Linked DNA regions of Homo sapiens. The protein of the gene in region 3 interacts with the protein of the main gene of each other region in a pairwise test. Each region holds a gene or a part of one and is shown on either strand. Other genes may lie near its edges. The genes, in order: VMA21, SLC7A8, NINJ2 and LDLRAD1.

Region 1 (7,030 bases), on a different chromosome or scaffold from region 3:
TGCATATGCCCCTGGTTTAAATACTTGCAGAAAAATACCCATGTATCATCACCTATTCAGCAAATGCCTGAAACCAAAACAATAATCCAACATTGGACAGTAACATTTTACAAACAGCATAAGATCCCAAAAGCACAAGAAATACCTTGGCATTATATAAAAAGAAATTAGGTGGACAATTCTAAATACAACAATACTTCTTAATTAGGGACCATCTAGAAATCTACCACATACTACCCTAGACTCAAATGTCATTATACTAAAATTGTAGTCTTTAAGCAAGAATTAAAAACAGTTCCATAATAATCATACTGATCTTTCACTTTTCTCAACAGTTAAACACAAATGCTATTTGACTTTTATGACTAATCATCCCTCTATTCCTTTAGTCCAGTTTCACAACATAAAAAATAAATGTGAACAACAAATCGGTAATGGTTTCACATACTTAAGCAAGAATCCTAGTATTAGGATTATCAGTAACAGAAAATTTGAATTTTAAGAGAATAAAGATAGAATGTGCTTATTTAGAAAATGGTCAATAAGGCCGGGCGTGGTAGCTCACGCCTGTAATCCCAGCACTTTCGGAGGCCGAGGCGGGTGGATCACCTGAGGTCACAAGTTCAAGATTAGCCTGGACAACATGGTGAAACCCCGTCTCTACAAAAAAATACAAAAAAAAATTAGCCAGGCGTGGTGGCAGGCATCCGTAGTCCCAGCTACTTGGGAGGCTGAGGTGGAGAATCACTTGAACCCAGGAGGCAGAGGTTGCAGTGAGCCGAGATTGCACCACTGCACTCCAGCCTGGGCAACAGAGCAAAACTCTGTCTCAAAAAAATAAATAAATAAAATAAAGAAAAAGAAAAAGAAAATGGCCAATAATCACTCATCTGAAAAAAATGCAAATAGCTGTCAGGAAAAGCTGGCAGAATTTGAACTTGTAAGCTAAACTTTTAGTGTGTATCAAACTAGCATTAAGGAATGGCTTTCAAAAATGAATACGGGATATCAACTAAAATAGAGGTTATTTTTAGATGGCAACATTATGGGGAATTTTGATTTTTTTTCCTGTTTGAATATGTATTTTTCCAGTTTTCTACAAAGAACATATACTATGATTTTATAATTAAAAAACAAATACTTGTGGGAGTGTTTTTAGATTGCACATAATTAGTACCAAATAACTAGAAAGAACACAGACTAAAGATACGAAAATAAAATCAAGGTTTTTTTCCATCAGATATGCCCAAGGAGAATACTTTTTGGATGAAAAAAAAATGTTTTCCAGATTGTTTCCACTCCTAACATATGCAAAAATGAACATATTTAAATGCAAATTCCTATCATATACACTACAATTTTAAAAAATAGTAAAAAAAACAATTTTAAATGGAGCTTCCTCGAACCTTTTAATTGAAGCCTAGCTTCAATGTTGAATGAGGAAGCAAAGTATCTCATTAAAAAGTTGGTCTGCAAAGCACAAAGCTGGCCTGCAAGGGGACTTGAAGGAAGCAGGCTGAGTGTTTGAGTAGTGAGATCTTTGCTTTGCTCTTTAGATCCTTCAGTAAGCTAAGGTCCTTTTACCTGAATGGATGTAATTTAGCCTAGTTTTCCCATAAAATAATGTAATGGATAATTCTTATTGACTAGGGATTACACTTCATGTGAAATTCCTCAGTGACATTCAGATTAATTCCAGTGTCCACAATTTAAGCAACTTTCCATAGGAAATTAAAATCCCAAATCCAAGGACCTGGTATTTTCATGCTAAAGAAAGCATTCCAGCGTAAAGTGGAGTTTAATTTGCTTCACTGTGTGCATCTTAATATATCCAAATGAGTAAAACTCAAAAGCAACCGTAAGTCAGAATACTATAAAACATGTTTTGTTGAAAGAAGATAAAATTCCTTCCAGAGTATTGTCTAATTAAATTAACATATTTCTTTGTAACTAACTTTTCCAAATTCTCATTTGCAAATCAGATTCATACAGTTAAAACTGAATATACAAACCAACATATTAGAAAGATCAAAATTTACATACTCAAACGTGACTCCTTAAGACTGACTTTAACATGTTCTTTCAACTTTATTCAAATCAGATGGCCCCCTCCAGCATTTATCATTTTAAAAAATGAATTTAATGCTATAAAAAGGTGATGTTCACTTTAATCCTGTTTGCCTTCACGCCACTGTCGTGAGCCTTCATTCCAGGCCACATACACAAAGAGGGCCAGCACCACATGGACGGCGACCACTGCAACAATAGCAGCGTAAAAATAGCTGTCCCTATTGGACATCCCAAGGGCGCCTATCAAGAGAAAAAAAACAGTTTCCATTTTATTGCAAAATTTACCAAAGTACAAAAAAAAAAAACAAAGCATCCTAATTTTTATGATGTATTTATTTAACTAGTCAGGCAATTAAAAAGTAATATTTTGGGTGGTAATGAATAAAGTATTCACTAAAAGATATGAGTACCTTCTATATATTAAGAACATTATGTTGGCCGGGTGCAGTGGCTCACGCCTGTAATCCCAGCACTTTGGGAGGCCAAGACGGGCAGATCACGAGGTCAGGAGATGGAAACCATCCTGGCTAGCACCGTGAAACCCCGTCTCTACTAAAAATACAAAAAAAATTAGCCAGGCGTAGTGGCAGGCGCCTGTAGTCCCAGCTACTCGGGAGGCTGAGGCAGCAGAATGGCGTGAACCTGGGAGGCAGAGCTTGACGCGAGCCGAGATCGCACCACTGCACTCCAGCCTGGGTGACTGAGCGAGACTCCGTCTCAAAAACAAACAAACAAACAAACAAACATTGTTTTAAACAAAACCATAATTATAAAGACTTCAGGCCGGGTGCGGTGGCTCACGCTTGTAATCCCAGCACTCTGGGAGGCCGAGGCGGGTGGATCACCTGAGGTCACGAGTTCGAGACCAGCCTGGCCAACATGGCGAAACCCCGTCTCTACTAAAAATACCAAAAATCAGTCGGGTGTAGTGGCGGGTGCCTGTAATCCCAGATACTCAGGAGGCTGAGACAGGAGAATCGCTTGAACATGGGAGGCGGGGGTTGCGGTGAGCCGAGATCGCGCCATTGCACTCCAGCCTGTGCAACAAGAGTGAAACTGTCTCAAAAAAAAAAAAAAAATTTCAACATCAAAAAGGGGACTTCATTCTCTCTTCCTTCCGTTATCTGACACTAAAGTCCATTCCCCCAAAATTCCTCCTCCCATGTCAGCCAACCCCTATTCTTTAAAAGGTACTAAGAGAAAGGATTTGCAAGCTATTTCACAGAAAACCATAGGAAAACTGTCAAGCTGAAACAATAAGTTATTTCATAAAGACTCATTATGAGCAATATGATTTTTTGAAAAGCTAAACAAGAAAAAAATAAGAATACCCAGTTTAAAGATATAAAGAGGTCATAAAAGCACAGAATCTTAAATTGGGGGAAAACATCTTGTTTTAATGGGTCTAAGATTACCTTCAAATATGTAAGATTTAGTTGTGAAATATAACCCAATAGGAACAGTGATCATTAAAGCTGTGAAGAACAGGAGCGTCTTCAGTGTAGATGCTAATGAGCTTTCATTTCTGGAATAAAGTAAACAAAGAGAAAATCAGAACCTGCACAGTCATATCCAAACGCTCTTATGTCCCTGAAACTATAAACATCCACAAATGAGATGCTATGCAGGAGGAAGATCACAGGCAGGGACTCGTAATCCGAAGATCCTAGAGAACCAGCTGTGGGTAGTGGGAATTTCTTGAGCTGGAACATGAAGATTATACACCACCTTTAGGGACTGTCATTCATATCCAGTGTAAGACGAAGCGTCAGGGCACCTCAGATCAACTGCCAACAAGCTGGGTGAACAAACTAAGTGAAGAAACTCAGTGCCCCTGCCTCTGGAACTGGAGCTTTTACCCAGGGAAGCCACGGCGGACAGCGGCACCAGTGCCCAACCCATGCGGCAACCGTGTCCACCAGCACCAGACACCAGAGCTGGGAACGCAGCAGGCACCATGGGTGGATCAGCGCGCCCTCTTTTGCTGGAATCAGAGCTTCCGTCACGGGAAGCGACCAGCTTGCTGTCCTCCAGCATGAGACAGTGGACCAGGGAACTAACGAGGCAGACACACCTGTGCACCCTCCCACACTGGAATCAGAGCTTTTGCCCAGGGAAGCCACTGTCACACTGGTCCCTGAGCCCACGCAGCAACCCTGACCACCAGCACCGGACACCAGACCAGGGAACTCGGCAGGCACCACAGGTGGAGCAGTGTGCCCTCTCCCGCTGGAATCGGAGCTTGCATCTGGGAAAGCTGCCAGCCTCCTGTCCTCCAGCACCAGACAGTGGACCAGCAAACTAACCAGGTGGAGCCGACGCACCAGCGTGCCCTCCCCCACTGGGATCAGAGCTTTGGCCCAGGGAAGCCACTGCCACACCAGTCCCTGAGCCCGTGCAGCAACCCTGACCACCAGCACCAGACACCAGACCACTGAAGGAGGTAGGCAGGGCGAACGGACCAGTGCGCCCTCCCCAGCTGGAATAGGAACTTCTGTTATGGGTGAAAAATCGAGCTAGAGGGAATACTTCCAAACACGTTTTAAGAGGCTCCAATCACCTTGATACCTAAGCCAGACAGACACAGCAAGAAAACTACAGGACAACATCACTGATGAACACTGGTGCAAAATTCCTCAATAACATATTTTCAAACCAAATTCAACAATAATCAGGCCAGGTGTGGTGGCTCACACCTGTAATCCCAGCACTTTGGGAGGCCGAGGCAGGCGGATCACTTGAGGCCAGGAGTTCGAGATCAGCCTGGCCAACATGGCAAAACCCAGTCTCTACTAAAAATACAAAAATTAGCTGAGAGTGGTGGCGTGTGCCTATAGTCCCAGCTACTTGGGAGGCCAAGGCACAAGAATCCCTTGATCCTGGGAGGCAGAGGTTGCAATGAGCCAAAATCACACTCCAGTCTGGGCAACAGAGCAAGACTCTGTCACAAACAAACAAAACCAATACATCAAAAAGATTATATATTATGACCAAGTAGGATCATCTCAGTTGATGCAGAAAAAGCACTTGACAAACTTCCGCATCCTTTACTGAGCTGAAAAAGAAATCAAGAAAACAATCTCATTTATAATAGCATTAAAAAAAAATACTTAGGGGCCAGGCTCAGTGGCTCATGCCTGTAATCCCAGCACTTTGGGAAGGCTGAGGCTTGAGGCCGGGAGTTTGACGCAAGCCTAGGTAACACAGCAAAACCCCACCTCTACAAAAAAAAATTTTGATAATTCGCTGGGCATGGTGGCACGTGCCTGTAATCTCAGCTACTCAAGAGGCTGAAGTGGGAGGATTGTTTGAGCCCCAGAGGTCAAGGCTGCAGTGAGCAGTGATTGGGGCACTTTACTCTGGCCTGGGTGACAGAGCAAGACTCTATTTCAAAAAAAAAGAAACTTAGGAATAAATTTAACCAAGGCGATGAGTGACTTGTACACTGAAAAGTATAAAACACTGATGAAAGAAATTGAAGATGACACAAATAAATGTAAAGATATCCTGTGTTCATGGATTGGAAGAATTAATACTGTTGAAATGTCTACAGCACCCAAAGCAACATACAGATATAACACAATCTCTATCAAAATTACAGTAGCATTCTTCATTAAAATAGAAAAACAATCCTAAAATTCATCATACAGAACCACAAAAAGCCCCAAATAGCCAAAGCAACATTGAAAAAGTTGTAAGCATCACACTTTCTGATTTAAAATATTACAGTTATAGTAATCAAAACAATATGGTATTGGCATAAAAACAGAAACATATAACAATGAAACAGAATAGAGCCCAGAAATAAATCCAAACATATATGGCCAACTAATCTTCGACAGGGGTGTTAAGAGGAACACAATGGGGAAAGGACAGTCCCTTCAATAAGTGGTACTGGGAAAACAGGATTTCTACATGCAAAGAAAAAAACTGGACTCTTACACCATAAACAAAAATCAACCCAAAATGGATAAAATAACTAAAACATAAAGATATAAAGTTTTAAGACATAAAAGAACACAGAGGGAAAGGTCCTTAACATTGGCCTCAGTAATGATTTTTTGGATATCACACCAAAAGCTCAGGCTACAAAAGAAAAAATAAAGCGGCTTGCATCAAACTAAAAAGCTTCTGTACTGCAAAGGAAACAATCAACAAAATGAAAAGGCAGCTTACAGACTAGGAAAACATATTTGCGAACCACCTATCTTGTAAGGGGTTAATACCCCAAAATTTATAAAGAACTCTTACAACTCAGCAGAAAAACCACCTGATTAAAATATGGACAACAGCTGGACAGACATTTCTCCAAAGACATAAAAATGGCCAAGAGATAAATGAAAATGTGCTCAACATCACTAAATCATCAGGGAAATGCAAATCAAAACCACTATGAGATATAACCTCACACTTCTAAGGACAGCTATTATCAAAAAGGCAAGTGATAACAAATGTTTGTAAAAGTGTGGAGAAAAAGAAACCCTACTACATTGTGACTGGAAATGTAGACTGGTACAGCCATTATGGAAAACAGTTCCTAAAGAAATTAAAAATAGAACTACCACACAGCCCAGCAATCTCTCTTCTGGAATATAAGCAAAGGAGATGAAATCACTACCTCGTAAAAATATCTGCACTTCCATGTTCATTGCAGCATTATTCACAATAGCCAAGATTTGAAAACAACCTACGTGTATGTAGACAGACAAAATAAAGAAACCGTAGTGTATATATACAAGGGAATATTTTATTCAGCCTTAAAAGAGGACATCTGCCATTTGCCACAACATGGATGGACCTGGAAGACATGTTAAGTAAAATAAGCCAAACGCAGAAAGACGAATACTACATGAGCTCACTTATATGTGGAATCTTTAAAAAAAAAAAAAAAAGGTCAACGGTCAACTACACAGGGACAGAGAATAAAACAGTAGTTACCATGGCGGTGGGGGTGGGAGGC
Region 2 (7,600 bases), on a different chromosome or scaffold from region 3:
GCTCCATGGAATCCCACCAAGTGCAGCAGACAGAGGAGTAATCTGTTGGAATTTTTGTCTCTGGTGTCAGAGCAAGGATTCATCATTATCTCCAGAAGAGCTGAATTAATTAACCATCATAACAAAGCAGGGTCAGCTGCATCCAAATTCTCAGGACTGCATAAACCCTAGAAGACACAACTTCCTTTGAACTTATGAATATGCCCAAAAGGCAAACAGAGCATACACTAAAAAGGGCTTAATCACTGACCGAGTCTCCTCATTTCATCTTCCTTTCTTTCTGACCTATTTTGGCCTTTTCTTTTTTTAATTTTTTCTTCTTTTCTCATTAATTTTCATCTGCTTTTCATTTTCTAATGAAGTAAAGGCATCTAAAACTACTGGCTCAGGAAGGCCCCATCTAATCGACCATAGGCAGTGATCCCTGGGACTCTGGGAAGAAAGTTGGCTTTAATTTAAAGCAGGGTTTCCTTCTGCTTTAAACTAAAGCACATAGATATGGGGCACATAGTTACGAGAAGAAGGATGGAGTGAGCGCATGGACTGTGAGTTGACTCCAGGGAGAGATTTGGGTCCTTTGTTGGTAACCTCAGACTTCCCAGCTCTGTTACAAAAAGCAAGAATAAAGTGCTGTCTATTGGATCTAGAAAAAAAAATCAGGAATGGAGTGCATGAGCTTTGTGCTCTATTCCTTTGCATTAGCAGACACGTCTAACTTGTCTCTGAAAGGGAATATTAACCCGGGTGTGGTGGCGCACATCTGTAGTCCCAGCTACTCGGGAGGCTGAGGCGGGAGGATCACTTGAGCCCAGGAGTTTGAGGCTGCTGTGAGCTGTGATTGTGCCACTACACTCCAGCCTGGGTGACAGAGTGAGACCTTGTCTCTAAAAAAGGGGGGAGTAGGGGAATATTAGAACATGACTGCGTGGGGGTTGTGTGTGTTTGTGTTTTAACTATCACAAGCAGCATGTCCCAAGCCATAACCTTTTCTGTCCAGTAGGTGTCAGCTACGCACAGCCTTTCTCTTTCTAAATCCATATTTGTAAGAAAACGGCCTTTCATCCATAATTTTCCCTAGTTAAAGGGATCAATTTCTTCTGATCTGAAGCACGCAAAACAGCTGAAACAGTGGCTCCGATATTGGAAACAGAATTGTACTACGTACTTGGGATATGGCCACACTGAGGACTGTGCGAAGGGGGTGACAAATGTTGGGGGGGCCCAGGTGAAGTCCTGTGGGTCTCACTGAGCAGATAAGTGTTAGGATCAAGGTGAGTCTCTAAAAGGCACAGTTAAGACACCAAAGCAAAAACACAGAGTTTCCCTCAGGTGAAAGAAATTGAGGCTTTGACCAGTAGCTATAGCATCCTGAAAAAGTGCTCAGTGTAAACTATCAATCTCCCATTTGCCCTCAAATAGACTGTCTTGTTTTTTACCTCAGGTAAAATATTTCTTTAAGCCTCAGGTTTCTAATTTTTAAAATCTTTAAGATAACTGCCTCGTCTGCCCAAGATACTACATGAGGAGGAAAAAAATTGAGATATTGTTCAGAAAACCATTTGTGGGCTATAAAGCACTATTTAAACGTAGAGAATAGAATAAAAATATAAAGGCAAATGCAGAATAGAGTAATCCCAGCACTTTGGGAGGCCGAGGCGGGTGGATCACAAGGTTAGGAGTTCAAGACGAGCCTAACCAACAGGGTGAAACCCCGTCTCTACTAAAAACACAAAAATTAGCCAGGCATGGTGGCAGGTGCCTGTAATCCCAGCTACTTAGGAGGCTGAGGCAGGAGAATCACTTGAACCTAGGAGCCAGAGGTTGCAGTGAGCCGAGAGCCGAGATCGCACCACTGCAGTCCGGCCAGAGCAGCAGAGCGAGACTCCTTCTCAAAAAAAAAAAAAATGCTCAAAATTTAATAAACATTAGTTTGTAATTTTTTACAGATTTTTGTCAACATATTACACCAAGGCTTTTCTTTCTCTCTTGTGTTCAATGTTAGTCACCTGGAATTTTGACACACTTAAGAGTTTATGTCACAAAAAGATTCCAACCTACAGAGAGGCACTTAATATAAATAATGCTCCCTTTGAAAGTGGGGAGATTCCTTTCCTAGCTTTGTTTGTTTGTTTGTTTTGGTTTGGTTTTTTTAAAGACAGGGTCTCACTTTGCCACCCAGGCTGGAGTGCAGTGGTGCGATCTTGGCTCATTGCAGCCTCAACCTCCATGGCTCACACGATCCTCCCACCTCAGCCTCCTGAGTAGCTGGGATTACAGGCGTGAGCCACCACACCCAGCTAATTTTTGTATTTTTTGTAGAGATGGGGTTTCACCACATTGCCCAGTCTGGTCTTGAACTCCTGAGTTCAAGCACTCCACCTGCTTCGGCCTCCCAAAGTGCTGGAATTACAGGCATGAGCCACCGTGCCCAGCCCCTTTCCTAGATATTACATCGCACCAGTAATCAATGGTAATAAGCCACTTATAAATTCCAAGTGCTAAAGAAATAGAAATACTAATCTTCAGCAACTCTTCCTTTCCAACGTGTGCACCTAGTACCGCTGTATTCCAAGAACGTATTTGATCCCATAACCCCCTTAGCTTCTTAGTTCATAATTTGAGAGGGCTAAAGCTTACCATATCGTTATCAGTTTGCACTGGTTTTAGCAAGAGACCTCAAATTCATCACATTCATGTTTTATCCCACATTAAGTCTGCATCATATAAATTAGAACTACCAAATATTACTGAAAGAACTCACGTTTAAGAAGCAGAAACATTATTTGTTTTATATGGTGATGTTGAAATCGGAGCAGAAGTCTTCAAATCTGAATGTATACAAATGAATCTATCAAATTTTTCCTCAGTGCTTTCTAAGGTTGTCAGGAAAGGCTAGAGGCAAATTCGACATTTTTTCATTTCCCATGACTCATTCCCTCCCATGGAGTTTCGTGCTATATATTCCCTGCCTTGTCTGGTTTTTTTTGTTGTTGTTTGTTGTTTTTTTTTTGCTGAGTCTTTCAATTTGCTGTGTCTTGAACTAGCAAAAGGAGGAGAGGAAGTTCCTCCCAACCTTTGAAACCTCTTAATACTTGCTGAGTGATCAAGGGGGCAGATGACTGCTGATTGGACTTTACCCCATTTGAAAAAGCTTTTGCTATGATAGCTCAACAAACCTCATTTTAAGGAATTAAGTATTTATTTTCCTTAAAACCCAAAATCTTTTGGAACATTTTCCAGAAAGTGAGGCCAAATTTTTGTAGTTAGGGGTCAGTTTGGGGGAACTTAATTTTTTAGGCCCACTTTAAAATTAAATAATTTTGCATAATATATTTAATAAGGCTAAAAATAACTTTATTTTAGACTTATAGTGTTGTCCACTATATTGCTTCATGCTGTTTTTTCGAAATAATTTACAATTATAAATAGACATTGTTGCTCTCACCTTAAGGCAGCAGTTTCTGAGTGAAATTCTTCAAGAAAGTGGAGGCATCATTTCGATATGGTAATAAGCTAGTTATTCTAACATCAACAAGTATGTTTCATGATCAGCGATATACTGATAATTCCCCATGTGTGCTTTTCAAATAGTTTATAAATGCAAAAATATTAGAAGTTGCAGGATCAGGGTTTGAGTCATTTTTTTTCATGTTTCAGCCAGTCCTAAATAAGAGCTGTGAACAACAAGGCTACCTGGTGATTTTGTTTTTTATCTTTTTGTATGTGCATGTGGTTTTTCTGGCTTTTTGTTTTGTTTTGTTTTTGAGACAGGGTCTTGCTCTACCTCCCAGGCTGGAGTGCAGTGGCGTCATCATAGCTCACTGCAGCCTTGACCTCCTGAGCTCAAGCAATCCTCCAGCCTCAGCCTCCTGAGTAGCTAAGACTACAGGCCTGCACCACTGCACCCGGCTAATTTTAAAATTTTTAGTAGACGGGGTCTCGCTCTGTTGCACAGGCTGGTCTCAGACTCCTGGGCTCACGTGATCCTCCCCTGTCAGCCTCCCAAAGCGCTGGGATTACAGGCGTGAGCCACCGCGCCTGGCGATTTTGTTTCCTCTGTACTCTTCGTAGCTCACAATTACGCTAAAAGAACCTTTTTCCCATTGTTAATTCCTTCCATTTCCCTCCCCCACCCGTCGATTCCCCCTATTTTTAGGAAACTCGAAGATGATGTCCTTTCAACGTTCTCTCCTGTATTCTCAAATACAGGATCCAGTCCTAAATATTTTTTAATACATTGGCTAGTTTATTTCTGATGGCATTAAAAGTATCGGCACAACTGTTCCCTGATTTATAAAGCTCACAGATGCTGTATGACCTGTAACATTATACTAGCTAATGAGCTCTCCCGGAACAGTTGACGTGGAAGGAGTTTACTTCCACTTGGTTGCAAGGAGAAAGATGGAGAAAGCGAGAGACGATTGCAAAAAGAAATAACTTAGTCCATTTTCTCAGTGCTGTTTGGGGGCTTTGTGCTAATACTTAAATTGCAGAGGAGGGAGGAGACGGGACTGAGGATGGAGGGGAGCAGAGGAGGCAGGGGCGGAGCCTCGGCGGGCGAATAAAACCCCTCGCTAAAGAGAAGCACGTTAGTGTGTGGAGAAGCCACTCTCCCGAAACCAGAGGGATGGGGCCGGCTGTGCAGTAGAACGGGGATCGAAAAGAGGAAAACAAGGGCACGAAGACCAGCGAGAAAGAAGAGGACACCTGGGAAAGGCGGAAGCAGAAGACGGGGAAGGGAAAAGAAACCCAAAGCAGGTGGAAACCAGATCTAGAGCAACACCGTCAGGTTCACAGTTTGTTTTTCTAGAAGAGAAGAAAGTACCTGAGGATTGCTCTTTTTTCCTACCGTTAATGAAAACTACTTTTGTCTTCATCATAAAAGAAAAAACTAAGGGGAGGTAAAGGCAGTCTCCTGTTTTATTAGGGGGAGAGGTGAAGGGAAATCCAGGCTCACTTTCTGAATAAGCCACTGCCTGGTGCACAGAGCAGAACCATCCTGGTTTCTGAAGACACATCCCTTTCAGCAGAATTCCAGCCGGAGTCGCTGGCACAGTTCTATTTTTATATTTAAATGTATGTCTCCCCTGGCCTTTTTTTTTTTTTTTTTTTTTAGCAACACTTTTCTTGTTTGTAAACGCGAGTGACCAGAAAGTGTGAATGCGGAGTAGGAATATTTTTCGTGTTCTCTTTTATCTGCTTGCCTTTTTTAGAGAGTAGCAGTGGTTCCTATTTCGGAAAAGGACGTTCTAATTCAAAGCTCTCTCCCAATATATTTACACGAATACGCATTTAGAAAGGGAGGCAGCTTTTGAGGTTGCAATCCTACTGAGAAGGATGGAAGAAGGAGCCAGGCACCGAAACAACACCGAAAAGAAACACCCAGGTGGGGGCGAGTCGGACGCCAGCCCCGAGGCTGGTTCCGGAGGGGGCGGAGTAGCCCTGAAGAAAGAGATCGGATTGGTCAGTGCCTGTGGTATCATCGTAGGTGAGTTCCATTCCTTCCCGCGGACCCCTCCTCTCCCCTCTGGTGGTCCTCCTGTGAGATCTTAACCCTTCGAAAGCATTATTGTTCTTCCTATTCCTTAGAAAAGGATTGTCAGTCACCTGAGCTGTAACTCACCTCCACTGGTCAAGTTTGAGAGGCATAGGAAATACATCATACATCTCTTCCTCCAAACCAGGCAAAGATTCTGCCCAGTGTTCATAGAATGGAGCAAATCGTGGTCAGAAACCCGGCTGATGATTAGCATTGCCTGGGAACTCCTTAAAAATACAGGTCCTGGTCTCGACACTTGGAGGTTCTAGTTCAATAGGTTTAAGGAGGGACTGAGGGACCTGAACAAGTTTGTATGCAGCTATTATTCCCAGGCTGGGGATGGGCTTTTAAGGTATATTTGGTAGCTATTTTGCAGTTTTATGTTAAATGAAACTATGGGATAGGTATTAAAAATAGCAAGAGCAATGCCCTGCCTTTTTATTTTAGCGTTTTCCACCTTATGCAGCACTTTTACTGTGTGAAGTAGCTGTGACAGGGCTGTTATTCCCATTTCACAGATGGGGAAGTTATGGAAGAAAAGAGGGGACAGATTGTGCCTCTCGGTAAGTGGAGAGTTTGCAGTTTCTCCAGTTGCCTGGTGGGGTCCACCTGTTTCTTAACAGCCACGGAGGACCCGGTGAAGCTCTCAGAGGGAATCAGGAGTAACTAGAATGTGTAGAATATGGAGTTGAGGAGGAACTGATGGGTAAAATATGTGTCCTAGCTGGGAGGTGCTGAAGGTGGGGAACCTGGGTGGCCCCAAGAGTGCCAGTGCAGGCCACTCAAACCCCCTGAATGTACTTTGCAGGGCAGGAGTCCCAAATACAGCTTCGTCTCTAGACAGCACATCCTCTTTCCAGAGAAGCCTTGGAGATGGATGGCAGGCAATAGCTCACTATTCCTGCCCTCACTTCAGAGTGAGAGATTGTTCTGCTATCTTTGGTAGGGGGCTTTACTTTCTTCCCAGAAAAAGGAGTGCAGGACGGTCAGGCATAGATATGCTTCTTTGTCATCTCTCCAGAGTTCCTTTATGAGAGCTCGTTGTGTCCTGGTGCCCCTGAACCAGTTTCTCTGGCTGACGCCATGTTCTATGCAATAGCTCAGAGATATTTTGGCATCTGAGCAATAGTGACACTGGAGAGCACTCTTGAAATCAAATAAAATCAGTGCAGTATTCAGATAATCCTCTTCACCTCTACACCCAGAACTTCAGTGACCAAGCTCTCTTCAGTCTCTAAAATGAAATCCCATCCCCCCCCCACCCCCACCAACTCCTCCTACACCCTGGAATCCTATTTTATGTGATTCCCTGACTCTGGGAAGTTTTCCAGGCCATCTACAGTTATAAGAAAGATAATGTTATAAGAAAAATTGTAGTCATGATCTGAATCTCTCTTTACTTTTTCTCATGACATTTTTTTTGCCTCTCCTTTACTTTATCTCAATTGTTCAAAAGAAATGAGAACAGCCAAGTATTCAGTATGTATAGCACATGCCAGTTTAAGGTCTATAAATAGCCCGTTCACCAATTTGACTGACAGAATTAAGCATTTTCCCCCTCTAGGAAGGTTCTGACTTATACACAGATGCGCACGCCCACAGGCACACAAGCACAATTAAACATCCTTCCTGCCTCAGCCTGGCTCGCCCTTCCCAATATAGGTTCAGGTATTCTTTTTTTTTGTTCAGACGGAGTCTCGCTCTGTGGCCCAGGCTGGAGTGCAGTGGCGCGATCTCGGCTCACTGCAAGCTCCGCCTCCCGGGTTCACGCCATTCTCCTGCCTCAGCCTCCCGAGTAGCTGGGACTACAGGCGCCCACCACCACGCCCTGCTAATTTTTTTTGTATTTTTAGTAGAGACGGGGTTTCACCGTGTTAACCAGGATGGTCTCGATCTCCAGGTTCAGGTATTCAAGGGTAGAGGGTATTTTCCTATATACTGATGTTTTTGTCTCTTCCTTTAACATCTTTTTCTAAGATTATGAAGAAATGGGAGTGTTCAGGTATAATAAGTACAATTTCTGTGGGTATATGTTACTACTGATTTGTCCACAACCTTATG
Region 3 (7,681 bases):
ACCTCTGCCTCCCAGGTTCAAGCAACTCTCCTGCCTCAGCCTCCTGAGTAGCTGGGACTACAGGCGTACACCACCACGCCTAGCTAATTTTTGTATTTTTAGTAGAGACAGGGTTTCACTATGTTGGCCAGGATGGTCTGCAACCCCTGACCTCGTGATCCGCCCACCTCAGACTCCCAAAGTGCTGGGGTTACAGGCGTGAGCCACCTAGCCCGGCCCTGTTATGCTCTTTCTAATGAATACTGAAACTATAAAGATGGCCAGCTATGGTGGCTCACACCTGTAATCCCAGCACTTTGGGAGGCCGAGGCTTGTGGATCATTTGAGGTCAGGAGTGCAAGACTAGCCTGGCCAATATGATGAAACCCTGTCTCTACTAAAAATATGAAAATTAGCCAAGTGTGGTGGTACATGCCTATAATCCCAGCTACTTGGGAAGCTGAGGCAGGAGAATCACTTGAACCCAGGAGGCGGAGGTTGCAGTGAGCTGAGATTTTGCCACTACACTCCACCCTAGGCGACAGAGTGAGACTCCATCTCAAAAAAAACTGTAAAAATAAACATTATAATAAAAAGCTGTCAGCCATTGATGTACCTTTACCACCCATTGGTGATAATTGTACCACATTTTGGGGAAACATTGTTTTAACTAAAGAGTGTTATTGTTTTGTTTTTAGAGATAGGGTCTGGCTCTGCCGCCCAGGCTGGAGTGCAATGGCATGATTGTAGCTCACTGCAACCTTGAACTCCTGGCTTCAAACAATCCTCCCACCTCAGCCTCCCGAGTAGTGGGGACTACAGGTGCATGCCACCATGCCTAGCTAATTACTTTTAAATTTTTAATAGAGATAGGGTCTTGCTATGTTGCCCAGGCTGATCTCTAGCTCTTGAGCTCAAGTGATCCTCCTGCCTCAGCCTCCAAAATGCTAGGATTACAGGCGTAGGCCACCGTGCCCAGCCAAAGGTGGACAATAAATTGTAGAAAATAATGGATAACCTTCTGAGCAAAGGAAAATGTAAGATACAAGAATTAAATAGCATATTAGAAGAGAGTGAATGACAAATGAAGAGAAAGGTACACTAACACCTCAGTTACCTGCTAGAGAGAGACATTCATCCAGCCTAGCCAGTCATTTCCTTCTCCTTCCTCCCACCACCTCTTTCCTTCTGAACCTCTGGTTCAGATGCAGAGTCCTTAGCCTGTAACTCTGGATCGTTCAACCCATCAGCACATAAGAAACTTGCTCTTCTGAGAATGAAAATAAGCAGCAACACAATTTCCTTAACAACCAAGGATCTTATAGAGGCAAGAACTAGAAGTAAGAAGAAAACACATACTAGGGACAGAAGACATGGACTGGAGGTCTTGGGCCAATTAGGTGACCTTATTCCTATCTCAGAGCCTCTCCAACTCATGGCTTCCTCAACTCATTCATTTAACAAATGTTTTCTAAAGCAATGACCGTGTACCAAGAGTTGCCTCATGCACTCGGGCTGCAGCAGTGAATAAAACAGGAGAGGCCCTGCCCTCAGAGATCTTGTGTCCTAGTGAGAGTGACAGGCAATACATACTAAATAAATAAGCAGTGTAACTTTAGGTGGTGAGCAGTGCTATGAAAGAAATTAAACAAATGATAAAGACAAATTGGGGAGGAGGCATCCTGTGAAGAGGTTGGTCAGGGGAGGGCTCCTGGGGGAAGTAACATTTGAGCTGAGACCTGAATGTACTAGGAAGGGCCAGCCAGGAGATAAGCCAGGGAAAGAAGGTTCCAGACAGAGGGACAAGCAAGCCTTGCGGTGGGACCGCTCTCGGGGCTGGCTGCCAATCCAGGAAAACAGCACTGGGTATGCAGTTGTACTAGGTGAATGGTTTTGACACAGCACACCAAGCAGTCCTACAGTTCCCTGGTGGTGTCTCAAGGGCGGAGGGGCCAAGGACAGAGACTCTGCCAGACTCACGCCACCCTGCCCAAAACACACACAGAGAACGAGAGAGAGAGAGAGAGAGAGAGACGCGTGCACATACTCTGCTTCAACAAAACAGCTCTTCTTTAATCCGAAGTGTATATTGGGTGGCTGCTTAAGATTTTGTTCGAGGACCAGGTTCAGGGATCAGAAATTCTTGATCTCAAAAGTCCTTTTCCACACTTTGTTTGATTCTCTGCAATGTTACACAGCCTCAGCAGTGGTCATAGAAGGGTTCGTTCTATTCTATCCATTGGCAAGGAGTCACAGAGTGCAGCTCCCAGCAATCTGGCTCTCCTCTCACCGTAACATCCCACCCTTTCCCCTCCAGCAGTGGACTGGAACCTCTGATGCCTTCCAAGCCCATCCCAGCTACAGAGGGACACACATCTCTGCCTCTTCCTAGGAGATTAGACTGATTTCCTTTCCTTGCACTGTCCAAATGAGACGCTTTCTGTCCTACACAGTAGAGCTTTGTGAAGACAGCCGAGAAACGGCTCAAGTTTTTTCCAACCTGTAAAATGCAAAGTTGGCCAGCTGCCTCTCTTCCTAGCCTCAAAACTCATATATTTCCTGTCTCCCCGGCAGCTCTAAGAGAAGTCTCTACTGTCCTGGGGTTTGGGGAAAGCACTGCTCAGAATGTGAAATCATTTTCTGGTAATACGGATCTAATTAGCTCTTTGACTGACAAGAGGAAGCAGAGGCCAAAAGGGAGTTAACCAATCTGTTTTTCAGATATTTCAAAACAAGTGAAGAACCAGATAGGGAAACAGAGAGAAAGAGAAAATAAAGAGACAAAGCCTAGGGAGCATTTGGAGAAGGGAGTGAGTAAGAAGAGAACGGGGAGGGAGAATATCAAGTGACTAAAGTATCAATCCTCTGTTCTTCCAGCTTCACCTCTACTCCCGGTCTCCCCTCTGCTCTCTTCCAGAGAGAACTTACTTGAAGGTCGATGTTTTCTCTTGCTGATTCCATCTCGCTGCCCTCAAGTCCCTTCACACGCACCGGGTGCCGGGAACAGACTGCGTGGGCTCCTCCAGGCTCCGCCGTCTGAGTCTCTGCTGCTTTCTTCGGGTGGGAGAGAGCACACAGCTGGCGGGACAGACCTGCCATTCATCCCTCTGATGTGGGATGCCCGTCTTGGCTGCAGCCTCTGGGGGAGGTGTGCACCTGCACACACGTGTGAGTGTATGTGTGTGCACATGTGTGTGCTCCAGGAGGTGGCACATGGCACACTGATAGGTGACCTTTTGAGTTGGTAGTGACAGCATCATTTTCACCAGTGGCTCCAGTGACCTTCCAGTCCCAGCGGAGCCATCTGAGGTCACCCAGCCTGCTTTGAGCTAGTAGCTTTATGACTGGCAAAGAAATCCTGCATGTTTATCAAGCAAATTGAAAAACAGCCTGAGGACAACGCTATCTGACTTCACCGCTGGGTCCAGTCCCCAGTCGCCACGGGTGGAGTGACCTCCAGCACAGTCTCAATACTGAGGCAGAGGGATTTCCGTTGTTCTTTGCTTTGTTCCCTATATCCCTAAAAGTTTTTAAAAAAATTGTAGTTTACCTAATAGGCTCCAAAGCATAGGCTTTGTTCTGCAAAGTGAGTGAACAATACGTTTTTACTGACGGATTGTTTGATTCCTTCAACTCCTCCCTTGATTAGCCATAGAGGGAGCAGGGAGTAGTTGTACCTTCGAAGCTTGTTTATGCAAACAGTGGTATTCTCCCTACTTTTAAAATAAAATTACCAGGAGGGAGTCTTTTTTTAGAAAGTTTTTTTTTTCCTCTCCTGTTTACCTTAGAGCCCAAAACTCTTCTGGCTTGTTCCTGAAGCAAGGTTTAGACACAAGCTTGTGCAGGTGTGGGTGTGGGTATGTCTGTAGACGTGCATGGCAGGGTGTTAACCTGTAATCCAATTCAGGGCTTGAAGAGGTGCGGGCAGGAGGAAGACAGGCAGAGTCAACACGTTTACCCTCACCACATTCAAATGTAAAAAAAAAAAAAGGCGATTTCTTCAGTTCTATGAAATGCCTTTATAAGTTCCCATCCCTCTGGACAGTGGTGCGAGGGAGGGTTGGATGATTGGATGGGGGCCATATTTTAGTCTAATCTATGAAGCATAGTTGGATTTAATCATTTAAATGGTAAACAGTCCACTTTAGACACAATGCTCAGTCTTTCGGATTTGCAGAAGATGGCACCTAGGTGCACAGGAGGGCGGGGTGGGGACGGTTCTTGCATCTATCCTGTGGCCTCTCCATCTCGGCTCCTTTCTGTTCTGGAGCTGCTGGGCCCACGGGCCCGCCCGAATTGCTGACTGCTGAGGAGACACAGGTCCTGCTCCTGGGTCTTCTGCTGGCCTTGGTGGCTGATGTCTGATATTAGGCCAGAGTCACTCATGGGTGATTCTCTTTCTGCCTTTGAGATCCAGTGTTCTCCCTTGCTGTCTGCGCTACCTTGGCTCGTGGCAATGTGGACCATCCTGAGACCTGGCTTTGACTTGTATGTGCCCCCATCCCACTGTATCCGCTCAGTGGCCCACATCTCTAAGATAAGCCCCTCGAAATTTTCCTGTGAGATGCTTGACCAGTGCTCCTGAGCCCCCTTAGGCACATGGGGACTGAGGGCTGCTGACGAAGGGCAGGGGAAAGGCAAGCTCAGCCCCACTTCCAGCAGAGTTTGCTCTGATGTGGCTGCTCCAACTGACACAGGGCAGTCTGCGAGGTGATCTCCTTCCACATTCCTGAATGGAAATGAGACCTGGAACCCACTCTTCTCAGCACTCCTTAAAAAGTCTACCAGTAATATCTATCACCCCACCGCTCATAATAATACCACTATGTATCAAGCACTATTCTAAGCACTTTTTTTTTTTTGAGATGGAGTCTCGCTCTGTTGCACAAGCTGGAGTGCAGTGGCGCCATCTCGGCTCACTGCAACTTCTGCCTCCTGGGTTCAAACGATTCTCCTGCCTCAGCCTCCCGAGTAGCTGAGATTACTTCTTCCCATAGTCCCCTTAATCTAGAATCAGAAAATGTACGCTTTGTCTTCTTTTTTTTTTTTTTTTTCCTGTTTGGCTGGGATGTATCTGATGTAGAACTCTATGACAACAATTCAAAGGGAAATGAAGAAATTTAGAAAATCCTCTCTCTCAAGAAAACCTGGTTGTCAAAAATATTGTCTTGGCTGGGCAGCATGGCTCATACCTGTGATCCCAGCACTTCGGGAGGCCAAAGCCGGAGGATCTCTTGAGCCCAGGAGTTCAAGACCAGCTTGAGCAACATAGTGAGATCCCATCTGTAGAAGAACTTTTTGGCTGGACATGGTGGCTCACACCTGTAATCCCAGCATTGTGGGAAGTAGAGGCAGGAGGTCACTTGAGCCCAGGGGTTCAAGACCAGCCTGGGAAACACAGTGAGATCCTGTCTCTACAAAAAAAAAATTTTTTTTTAATTTAGCTAGATGTGGCAGCTTGCAGCACCTGTAGTCCCAGGTACTTGGGAGGCTGAGGTGGGAGGATTGCTTGAGCCTGGGAGCTGAAGGCTGCAGTGAGCTATGATCATGACACTGTACTCCAGCCTGAGTTGACAAAGCAAGACCATGTCTTAAAAAAAAAAAAAAACTTTCTGGAAAACCTTATTTCGGATGCCAGAAGCAAAATATTAACTATTTATTTCTCTTTGCACTCCTGTTGTGAAAATCCTCATTATCTTTTAAATAATATGGATACATCTGGCTGAATAGAGGGAAACAGGAACAAAAAAATGCAAAAGAGAAAAGTACTCGAATATATTTCAAAAAATTTCCTATTAATAAGCACATTGGTTTGAAAAGGAAACAGCTGTAATTGGTTATAATAATGGTTTTGGTTTGGCAAGATCTTTCTGGATTTGGACCTTTCCCCATCTCATAAGCATCATTTGGAAGTAAACAGAAAAAAGGCTTTGGAAAATGGTTTATCTACCATATCACGCTGTAACCCTGGACCAGGGGTCAGCAAAGTTTTTCTTTTTCATTTTTCCCTTTTATAAAATTCAAATTGCTATATGAAGCTTTTTTAATTTTAATTTTAATTTTTTGAGACGGGGTCTCACTCTGTCACCCAGGCTGGTGTGCAGTGGCACAGTCTCTGCTCACTGCAATCTCTGCCTCCTGGGCTTAAGTGATCCTCCCACCTCAGGCCCCAACCCCCAGCCCAGTAGCTGGGATTACAGGCGCGTGCCACCATGCCTGGCTAATTTCTGTATTTTTTGTAGAGACGGGGGTTTCGCCATGTTGCCCAGGCTGGCCTCAAACTCCTGAGCTCAAGCGATCCGCTCACCTCGATCTCTCAAAGTGCTGGAATTACAGGCGTGGGTCACCATGCCCAGCCAGTAAACTTTTTCTGTAAGGGGCCAGAGAGCCAATATTTTTTAGCCTTTGTGTGTCATATGGTTTCTGCTGCGATGACTCACTTCTATAATAATGTGAAAGCAGTCATAGACAACATGTAAATGAACGAGTGTGGGAGTGTTCCAATAAAACTTTATTTACAAAAAGAGTCAGATATTCATAAAAACAGACCGGAGTTGGCTCCACAGGCTATAGTCTGCTGACCCCTGCTCTAGGATTTAATCAGAGTCTTTGAAGTCTAATTCCCACTTGAGAGGCAACTACTGAGTCTCTACCACGTGGATATTGGGTTAAACACTGCGGGGATATAAAAGCACCACATGCACGCCCTGGTGAGACAACTGATGGCAAGGGAAGCTGTAGTGAAGAGTGTTGCTGCCATTTGGCTGGTGCTGAAACTGCACCTACGTGGAGGTTATCACTGTGGGTGGAAATGGTTTCTATTGTTCTTTACTGCTAGGGTGATTTTTGTGGTGTAAAGCCAGAGGGACATTTTTAGGGAGACTGTCTCTTGGAAAGCATATTTTGGAATATCCTTGAACTTACAGATAAGTAGACACTCAGAGTGACTCAGAAACTACTCTGAGTCTAGTTTCATGGAATGAGGGGTCTACAATGAGACCCTAGGTATCTTGCTATGTAGAAGGAGCAAAGCATTGTTGTAGGGTACTGAAGAAGGCAACAGCAAGAAGATCCTTTAATTTTGAATTGTGGGAAAAGCTCTAGGGTGAAAGCCAGGTGGCCTGGATTCCTCTCTGTGTGCTGAGTCACTGTGTTTTTAGGCAAGTCACTTAACTTCTCTGGGGCTTACATTCTTGTTTGTGAATGTGAAGCTATCAAAAGAGTTGATTCCTAAGATCCCTCTAGCTCTTAAATTCTGTTTCTAATGTGTGTTTTGGCCAGGTGTCGTGGCTCACACCTGTAATCCAGCACCGAGGTAGGCAGATCACCTGAGGTCAGGAGTTTGAGACCAGCCTGGACAACATGGTGTAACCCCTCTCTACTAAAAATACAAAAATTAGCTGGGCCTGGTGGTGCATGCCGGTAATCCCAGCTATTTGGGAGGCTGAGGCACAAAAGAATGGCGTGAACCCAGGAGGTGGAGGTTGCAATGAGCCGAGACCACAACACTGCGCTCCAGCCTGGGTGACAGAGTGAGACTCTGTCTCAAAAAAAAAAAAAAAAAAAAAAAGTTTATATTAAATACTTCCTGTGTAACAATATAAAATCTCAGATACAGGTCTGAATTTCAGTGTGTAAAAGTTGAGGGCTAGAAATTATTGGCTTTTTAAAAAATTGAAGCAGAGCAAGAAGAATCTAATGC
Region 4 (7,000 bases), on a different chromosome or scaffold from region 3:
GGGTGGCTTCCCACTGGTAGGATGCCAGATATCCTGTTTCATGTGCTGTGTCACTTGGTTAAATCAGTAGAGCCTGCTGGGTTAACTAAACTGGGGAAGATGCTAAAGTTGCATCCAAGCCCAGTATATCTGCCTTAGGTACCAAAGGGGTAGGAAGTGGCATATGTTTCACGTATGTGCCATCCATGAAGGCTAAACTCGGCTTGTCATTTAAGCCCCAGACATGTCATCACTCTAAGGGATGACGAGATTAGGATCCACAAGTATGCCTTGGAGCAGTTAGCAGATTTCCTCTGTGTGGCCCCAGAGACAGGCATGAAATCATGGAAGCAGATTCCCTTCGTCTTTGTTTGTGTTTGTGTTTTGTTTCATTTTTTTTTTGAGACAGGGTCTCACTGTGTTGCTCAGGCTGGAGTGCAGTGGTGTGGTCACAGCTCACTGCAGCCTTGACCTCCTGGGTTCACACAGTCCTCCCACCTCAGCCTCCCTAGTAGCTGGGACTATAGGTGTGCACCGCCATGCCTGGCTAATTTTTGTATTTTTGGTAGAGACGGGGTTCCACCACATCATCTTTGTTAGAAGCCACCTAACATGGTAATGAGCTCCTGGTCATTGGAAGCATTCAAGCAGAGGCTGAACAACTTGAAAGGAGGAGAGAAAATTCCTATTCAGAAATGATGTGTAGATCCCATTTCAAAGGCTGCTTCCTGCCCTTGTGCGCTAGGATTTGATTTTCATGTGAAGGGTTATCAGTGCCATTCCAGCCAGCCTTCCATGCTGGCCTGAGTGGCCCACTCAGGGTCCGGGACAGGCATACTCATCGGACCAGTCGGAGCAGTGCTGTACATGGTCGCGGCAGAGATGCCTCGGTATACAGTCGCAGTACTTGAAGAAGGTTGAAGGACAGCGCCACCACCCAGGGCCGCAGGGTGGGCACACAGTTACTGCAGAGACAAGAGCCAGCAGGAGAGCAGTTGCTGTGTCCTGGAACGCTCTGTGCACCAGGGCACTCCCTAGTTCTGAAACCTGCCGTAGCTCCCCATGGCCCCAACCCATCTGACGTGAGTTGAGTGTGTTCCTAGTTTTCCTGCGGCAGAGAGAATCTAGACTCCACAGCTCACAGGCTATGTGACCTCCCTCACCCTGTCTGAAACTGTTTCCTAGTGTGCTCAAGCTTGTTATCAAGCAAAGGATGTCAGGCAAAGTCCCAGGCACACGGTAAAGACTGCAATATGAATGGGTGCCCTTCCTTACCCTGAGTCCAGCTATGCTCACCTGCCATGACTGCCTGAGGGTGCTCCTAGCCTTCTCTCCTCTGCTCAGGCCTCCGGCATTCCTCCCCACACACCCAGCCTCTACCTACTGAAACCCGTCTATTCTTGGTCTTCTTGAATGCTACCTCTTCTGAGAAATCTCCCTTGATTCCTCCAGGTCCCCAGCACCTCCTTTCGGCATCAGCATGATGTGAGTCCTGGGGGTAGGACACATGCCTGATTCCTGATGTCCCCCACCTGAATCTGATACCAGGTGCGTTCTGAGCACCCCACCAATGCTCAGAACATGTTTGTTGATTGACCACTGGGGAAGAGATTGAGAGGAAACTCTAGGGCAGCTACAGGACTCGGGACTTGGATCAGGAGGCCTGGGTTCACACCTGAGCTCCCTTCCTGTCACACATTGTACTAAGTTTCTCCTCTCAAAGCCTCCATTTACTTACATACAAATTGGGGCCAGTGATTCCTGCCCTGCTTTCCTCACAGGGTCACTGGGAGGTGCAGAGATAAGGGAACCCCAGGTTCAAATCCCAGCTGGGCCATGTATGTACTCCTTGCATGACCACCTTCTGGGACCCAGTTTTCTCATCTGTGCCTTTGAAGGTGACTTCCCCACTGCAGAAGAATGAGCCTCCAGAAAAAGTCACTTGGAGTGGTAGTGAGTACCCCATCACAGGATGTATTCAAGCAGGGGTAGAAAACTCCTTCCTAGGATGCAGGGAAGCATGCAAGGGGGAGCCCTAGAGATTCCCTGCTCACCCTTTGCCCTCTGGCTGCTGCCTGGACACCAGCCCCAGCCCAGCCTGTGCCCAGACCCCTACCTGGGCTCAGTTCATCTGAACAGTCCCCGCAGTTGTTAGTGCCATCACATTTTTGGTCTGAGTAGATCCAGGAGGCCGGGTCTCCACAGTGGGCCACAAGGAAGTGGGGGAGGCTCTGGGGCACATCTCCTGTAGAGGTACAGAGGAGGCAGGAAGAAGTCCACATCTGGCCACAGCTGTCTGAGGGTTATCGGGAGGAGGATTGACCACCCTGGCAGTGGCCAAACTCAGGATCAGTGCCCATCCAGCCCAGAAGGGTGCAAGCAGAAGGTTTCCTGGGGAGGTGGTGGAGTCAGAGGGAGAGGAGAGCTCCGTTGCTGGACAGAGGCCCAGAGATCTGCCCCTCCCTTCCTCAGTTCCTCCCCAGCTCTGGTGTGTTCCTGCCCCACACCACTGCTGACACTATGCCCCCCTCCACAAAGAGCCTCCTTGACACCTATCCAAAACCATTCTTTCAAGTTCAGGTTCAAGTTCCATCACCTCCAGGAAGCCTCTTCCAACTGGAACATCACAGGAATAAATGTGGAGTCTTACAGTTGGGCCCCGGATCTCAGGGGAAGATCTAGGGTTCACACACCTTGTAAGGCAGAGTCAGAGCACCTTTCTTGAAAGTGTGTTCTGTTAGGCAGCAGTGTGATAGGGCTATCAAAAATTCACACAAACTCAGGCCACATCACTAGAGGTAGAAAACCTTGGGCAGGGAGGGAGCAAGATTCTGTTCGTTAGACTGCCCAGACCCAGCTAGAAGGGCTGAGGATGTTTCTGAGGCCTGTCCAGGGACGGGGACATGGGAAGTTGATATTCATTCTGTGGAGCATTGATGGAGTGGGGAGGGCCAGGAACTGGGTCACAAGGGGGCTGACTGTGACCTGGAGAAGGGGATGTGGCGTAGAGAAGAGAAACCTCATGGAGGGCAAGGGAGCAATCTTCAAATCCATGCAGCACCACCATCATGGCAGAAATTAAAGTGTGGTCTATCGGGGCAGGGTTGACAGAAGGACAGAGTTGGAACCAATCAGGGAGGAACCACTCTGGGAGGCAGCTCTAAGCCTGGGACAAGGAAAACCTTCCCATGGAAAAACCTTCCAATCCTTGCATCCCCTGGGATGCAAGCAGAGGCTGGGTGGCCTCGGTTGGGCTTGCTAGAGAGGGGATTGGGGATGAGCTGGGGCAAGGACTAGATGCTTTTGAGATTGCTTCTTGTCCTGAGGGTCTGTGATGCAATGACTCTCCCTCCATGAGCTCCCCCACCCCACCCACTGCACCTCTCCAGGCTCTCTCTCTCCTGTGGGGTCAGGCTCCTCTCTCCTGAGAACCTTCAGGTGTGTCTAAGGTCTGGGGCCAGGTCTTCCCATTCATTCATTCGCTCATTCATTCAGCAAGCCGTTCTGAATACCCCTCTGTGCTAGGCACTGGGGCCCCGATATCAAGCGGACTGGGCCTGCCTCAGAGGAGTTCACAGTCTGATGGGGGTGGCAGATGTGCCAATCAAGAGCGACAACCAGTGTGACAAGGGCTGGGACACAGGGAATCACAGGGACTGTGGAAGCCCAAAGGAGACACTTTAACCTAGTGTGGGAGTCAGGGAAGGCTTCCTGGAGGAGGTAACATTTGAACTCTGCCTTGAGGGATGAATACGGGTTCTCTGGGAGTGGAGACGCACAGGGTGAAGGCATTCCTTAGTGGGGGCATGTATGTGTGTCCCTGACTGGGACCAGGTCGGGGCAGGTGTTCCTGGATGAAGGCACTGGAGCATCAAAGCCATGGGGACTTGAAGGTGCCTGATGTGTTCAGTATGGATGCCAAGAGCATCGGAGTGTGGGGGAACCCCTGGGAGGGGCAGCACCGAGCGGGTACTCACGGCACAAGCTCTCATCCTCGTCCTCGCCGTGGGTACAGGTGCGAACGCCATCACAGACCCCACTGGCTGGAATGCAGCTCCTCTGGTCATGGCACAAGAAGCCTGTCCTGTTTGTCAGTGTTATACAAGCTTGGGCTCCTGAATGGGCAGGGAAAGGCCCTGGAGGGTCAAGGGTGGTGCTCACAAGGACAAACCTTCCTCACCTGAACTCCGCCTAGAGCTGGCCTGAGGGGCTGGGGCAGTGGGGAGGATGGACCCAGCGCCATCAATGGGGTTCAAGCCCCAGCTGTACCCGCTGCCGGCTGCCTGATCTTGGGCAGATGACCTGACCACCCTGAGTCTCAGGTTGTTTGCAACATGGGAATCATAGCACACACCCCGTGGGACTGTTGTGGGGATTAAATGAAAGCATCTCTGTGAAGAAACATAGAACAGAAAATGTGCAGAACTAGTAATGGTTCTCTCTTGTATTGAAAACTTATTTACAGTGTCATGGGAAGCTTCTGAGGACAATGTTCAATTCAGTGAAGTGGTTTTAATGGTGGAGCTCCTGGTACCAGGTTAGAGTGTCAGAAGCAATATATTTGGGCTGGCTGGAGGGCCATATGTCATAATTCCTTCTATCTGGGCACAACTGCAAAGCACTTTCATATCTTTATTCTATAGTTCCCCAAACACCCCTGCGACACGTCATCATTAGCCCCCCATATGGGAGGAGAAAAGGAATACCCACTCCTAGGGCTGCCCCAAAGAATTAAAAGGCAGAAACCTACGGACAAGGTAGGAGGAACCCCTTGGCCCCACATGTGTATACGTGTGCATAATTGGGGATGGGAGCCAGTTTGTGCATTTGTGTTTGTGCATGCGTGAACCACCTCTCAGTCCCTGGGCTGCCTCAGCTAGTGTGTGTGGGGGAGGCGGCGGGGGGGAGCAACTCTCAGAGACACTCATGTTGACACAGACACACACAGATGCACACACACATGAACACATGCTCACACACACACTGCTGCACCTATGTGCACACTCACAGATACACAGACAACAGATGTGCACACACGCACTGACACACAGACATGAACATGCATACACAGCTGCGTACACTCATAGACACGCTAAACACACAGATGTGCACACAGGCTCTTGACTGCAGCTGCTCATGTATTCATCCACCTCAGGGTCTGTGTTCCTGCAGGGCAGGGGGAGCGCTGCGAATCTCAGCCCCCGCCCCCACCTCAGCCCTCTATACCCACCCTGCCTGGCTGCAGAGCCATCCTTCAGAAACATCAGCCTGCCCCCAACTTGCCCCCAACTTAATCCCCTTTCTGTGGCTCCTGGACTATGACCTCCCTTCTCGGTGCAGCCTGTGAGGCCCTTGGCACTGGGCCCCACTTGTCACTCCAGCCCTTCCTGTGCACTGGCCTCTTGCAGTCTCTTCTTCTCTTCCTGCTTCCTCCCACCCCTCAGGGCTCCACACATGCTGTTCCCTGTGCCTGGGATGCTTTTCCTGGCATCCCCCCACTACTAATACCCATTGTTCCTACCCTGACTCCTCAATGGGGCTAGACTCTCAGGGCTCCCAGGGACCCCGCTGTAATGTGTATTCACGTCTAGACGGCTCTCGGAACAGTTATTAGCTCCTTGAAGGCAGGCACTGTGTTGGGGTTGTTCACCCCTGAAGCTGGGGCTGCAGGCATGTATGGGATGTCACCCGGTCCCCTGTGGTGGAGATGGGCACACAGTTGGATAGCACCACCCCGGGGTGGCCAGGCCAGGGGAAGAGGAAGTGTAGGGACTGGGGGGCTGAGAAGAGGCTCGTAACCCATCCTGGGGGTCTAGGAAGGCATCCTGGAGGAGGTGACATCAGAGCTGGGTCCTCTCAATAATCATGTCACAGATGTGCAAATGGAGGCTCAGAAACAGGTATAGTCAGTGTGTGTGCAGGTGTCTGTGTGTGTCTGTGCATGCACCTTAAGGAATTAGTCCAAAGTCACCTGGTGGAGAAGCCAGGCAGGTCGGGGCTCCCTCATCTCTCTGTGCCCTCCCATGCCCTCCCCGCCGGGTCTGACCCACCCTCTCTTGGCCGCCCTGACCTGGGGTGCATGATGGGAGTCCAAGAATGGTGACCAAGGCGATGAGGGCCGCCACAGTTGCCAGGAGGAGCAGCAGAGAGGCAGAGAGGCAGGCCCCGCGACGTGAGCAGCAGAGGTGGCCGCCGCCTGCTGTGTGGGGGGGAAACAAGCCCGGGGGTGGTGGTGATAGGGGGCCAGCGCTAGGAACAGGGAGCTCCCTCTCCGCCCTGCCCGCTGCAAGCAGCCTCTCCCCCACGAGGGTGAGCAGAGCAGGGATGGCTTCCCTGGAGGAGCAGCTCCCAAGCCCTCCTTGATGCTCTTTGTTCTGCCTGTGGGCCCACCCCACTAGGTGCCACCCTGGCCAGGGGCCCACAGCTGGCTGAATGGCAGAGGCGGACAGCCCTCCCCTCCCACCCGCCATCAGGAGACTTCCTCAGGACGCAGGGAGAGATGGACGCCTGCATGTCCAGCCCCCACCTTGGGGCAGAAGCTCCATTAGGCCCTTCATAAGCGTGCTTTATTTTTCAAAACAACCTTTTATTTTATCAATGAGGAAACTAGGGCTCAGGAAGAAAAGATTCATGTCACCCTGGGTGGAGCTGGCGTGTGAATCCACACCTGTTTGATGCCAAAACCCGTGCCCTTTCCACGATCCCAATTGACTGTCCATTCTGGAGTCTGCTGGGATGCAGGTTGGAATCCCAGCTCTACCGCATCCTACCTGGGCCACACTGAGTAAGCCACTTCACTTCCCTGTGCCTCAGTTTCCTCATGTGGAAAATGGGTACCATAATAGCTACCTTAGACTTTGTTGAGAGGATTAGAATTTGTTGAGTTAATGTGCACAGAGTAAGTGTTGAGTATGAGCTATTATTATTGCTTTTTTTAATTATTATTTTTTATATTTTAGAGATAGGGTCTGGCTCTGTTGCCCAGGCTGCAGTGCAATGGTGCAATCTAGTTCACTGCACC

The links.
Region 1: the proteins of NINJ2 (region 3) and VMA21 interact in binary tests that used the Homo sapiens proteins (3 or more experiments, as listed by UniProt).
Region 2: the proteins of NINJ2 (region 3) and SLC7A8 interact in binary tests that used the Homo sapiens proteins (3 or more experiments, as listed by UniProt).
Region 4: the proteins of NINJ2 (region 3) and LDLRAD1 interact in binary tests that used the Homo sapiens proteins (3 or more experiments, as listed by UniProt).

What each region holds. Positions count from the first base shown.
Region 1 is NC_000023.11:151,400,196-151,407,225, reverse strand, and holds part of VMA21 (vacuolar ATPase assembly integral membrane protein VMA21), read right to left. Parts: intron 3,596-7,030; coding exon 3,486-3,595; intron 2,311-3,485; coding exon 2,168-2,310; 3' UTR 1-2,167. UniProt on the Homo sapiens protein: Required for the assembly of the V0 complex of the vacuolar ATPase (V-ATPase) in the endoplasmic reticulum.
Region 2 is NC_000014.9:23,180,652-23,188,251, reverse strand, and holds the start of SLC7A8 (large neutral amino acids transporter small subunit 2), read left to right. Parts: upstream 1-4,591; 5' UTR 4,592-5,337; coding exon 5,338-5,488; intron 5,489-7,600. UniProt on the Homo sapiens protein: Associates with SLC3A2 to form a functional heterodimeric complex that translocates small and large neutral amino acids with broad specificity and a stoichiometry of 1:1.
Region 3 is NC_000012.12:660,421-668,101, forward strand, and holds the start of NINJ2 (ninjurin-2), read right to left. Parts: upstream 3,026-7,681; 5' UTR 2,941-3,025; coding exon 2,908-2,940; intron 1-2,907. UniProt on the Homo sapiens protein: Its role in unclear. In contrast to NINJ1 paralog, does not mediate plasma membrane rupture (cytolysis) downstream of necroptotic and pyroptotic programmed cell death.
Region 4 is NC_000001.11:54,008,187-54,015,186, forward strand, and holds part of LDLRAD1 (low-density lipoprotein receptor class A domain-containing protein 1), read right to left. Parts: intron 6,179-7,000; coding exon 6,050-6,178; intron 4,095-6,049; coding exon 3,957-4,094; intron 2,225-3,956; coding exon 2,096-2,224; intron 945-2,095; coding exon 796-944; 3' UTR 1-795.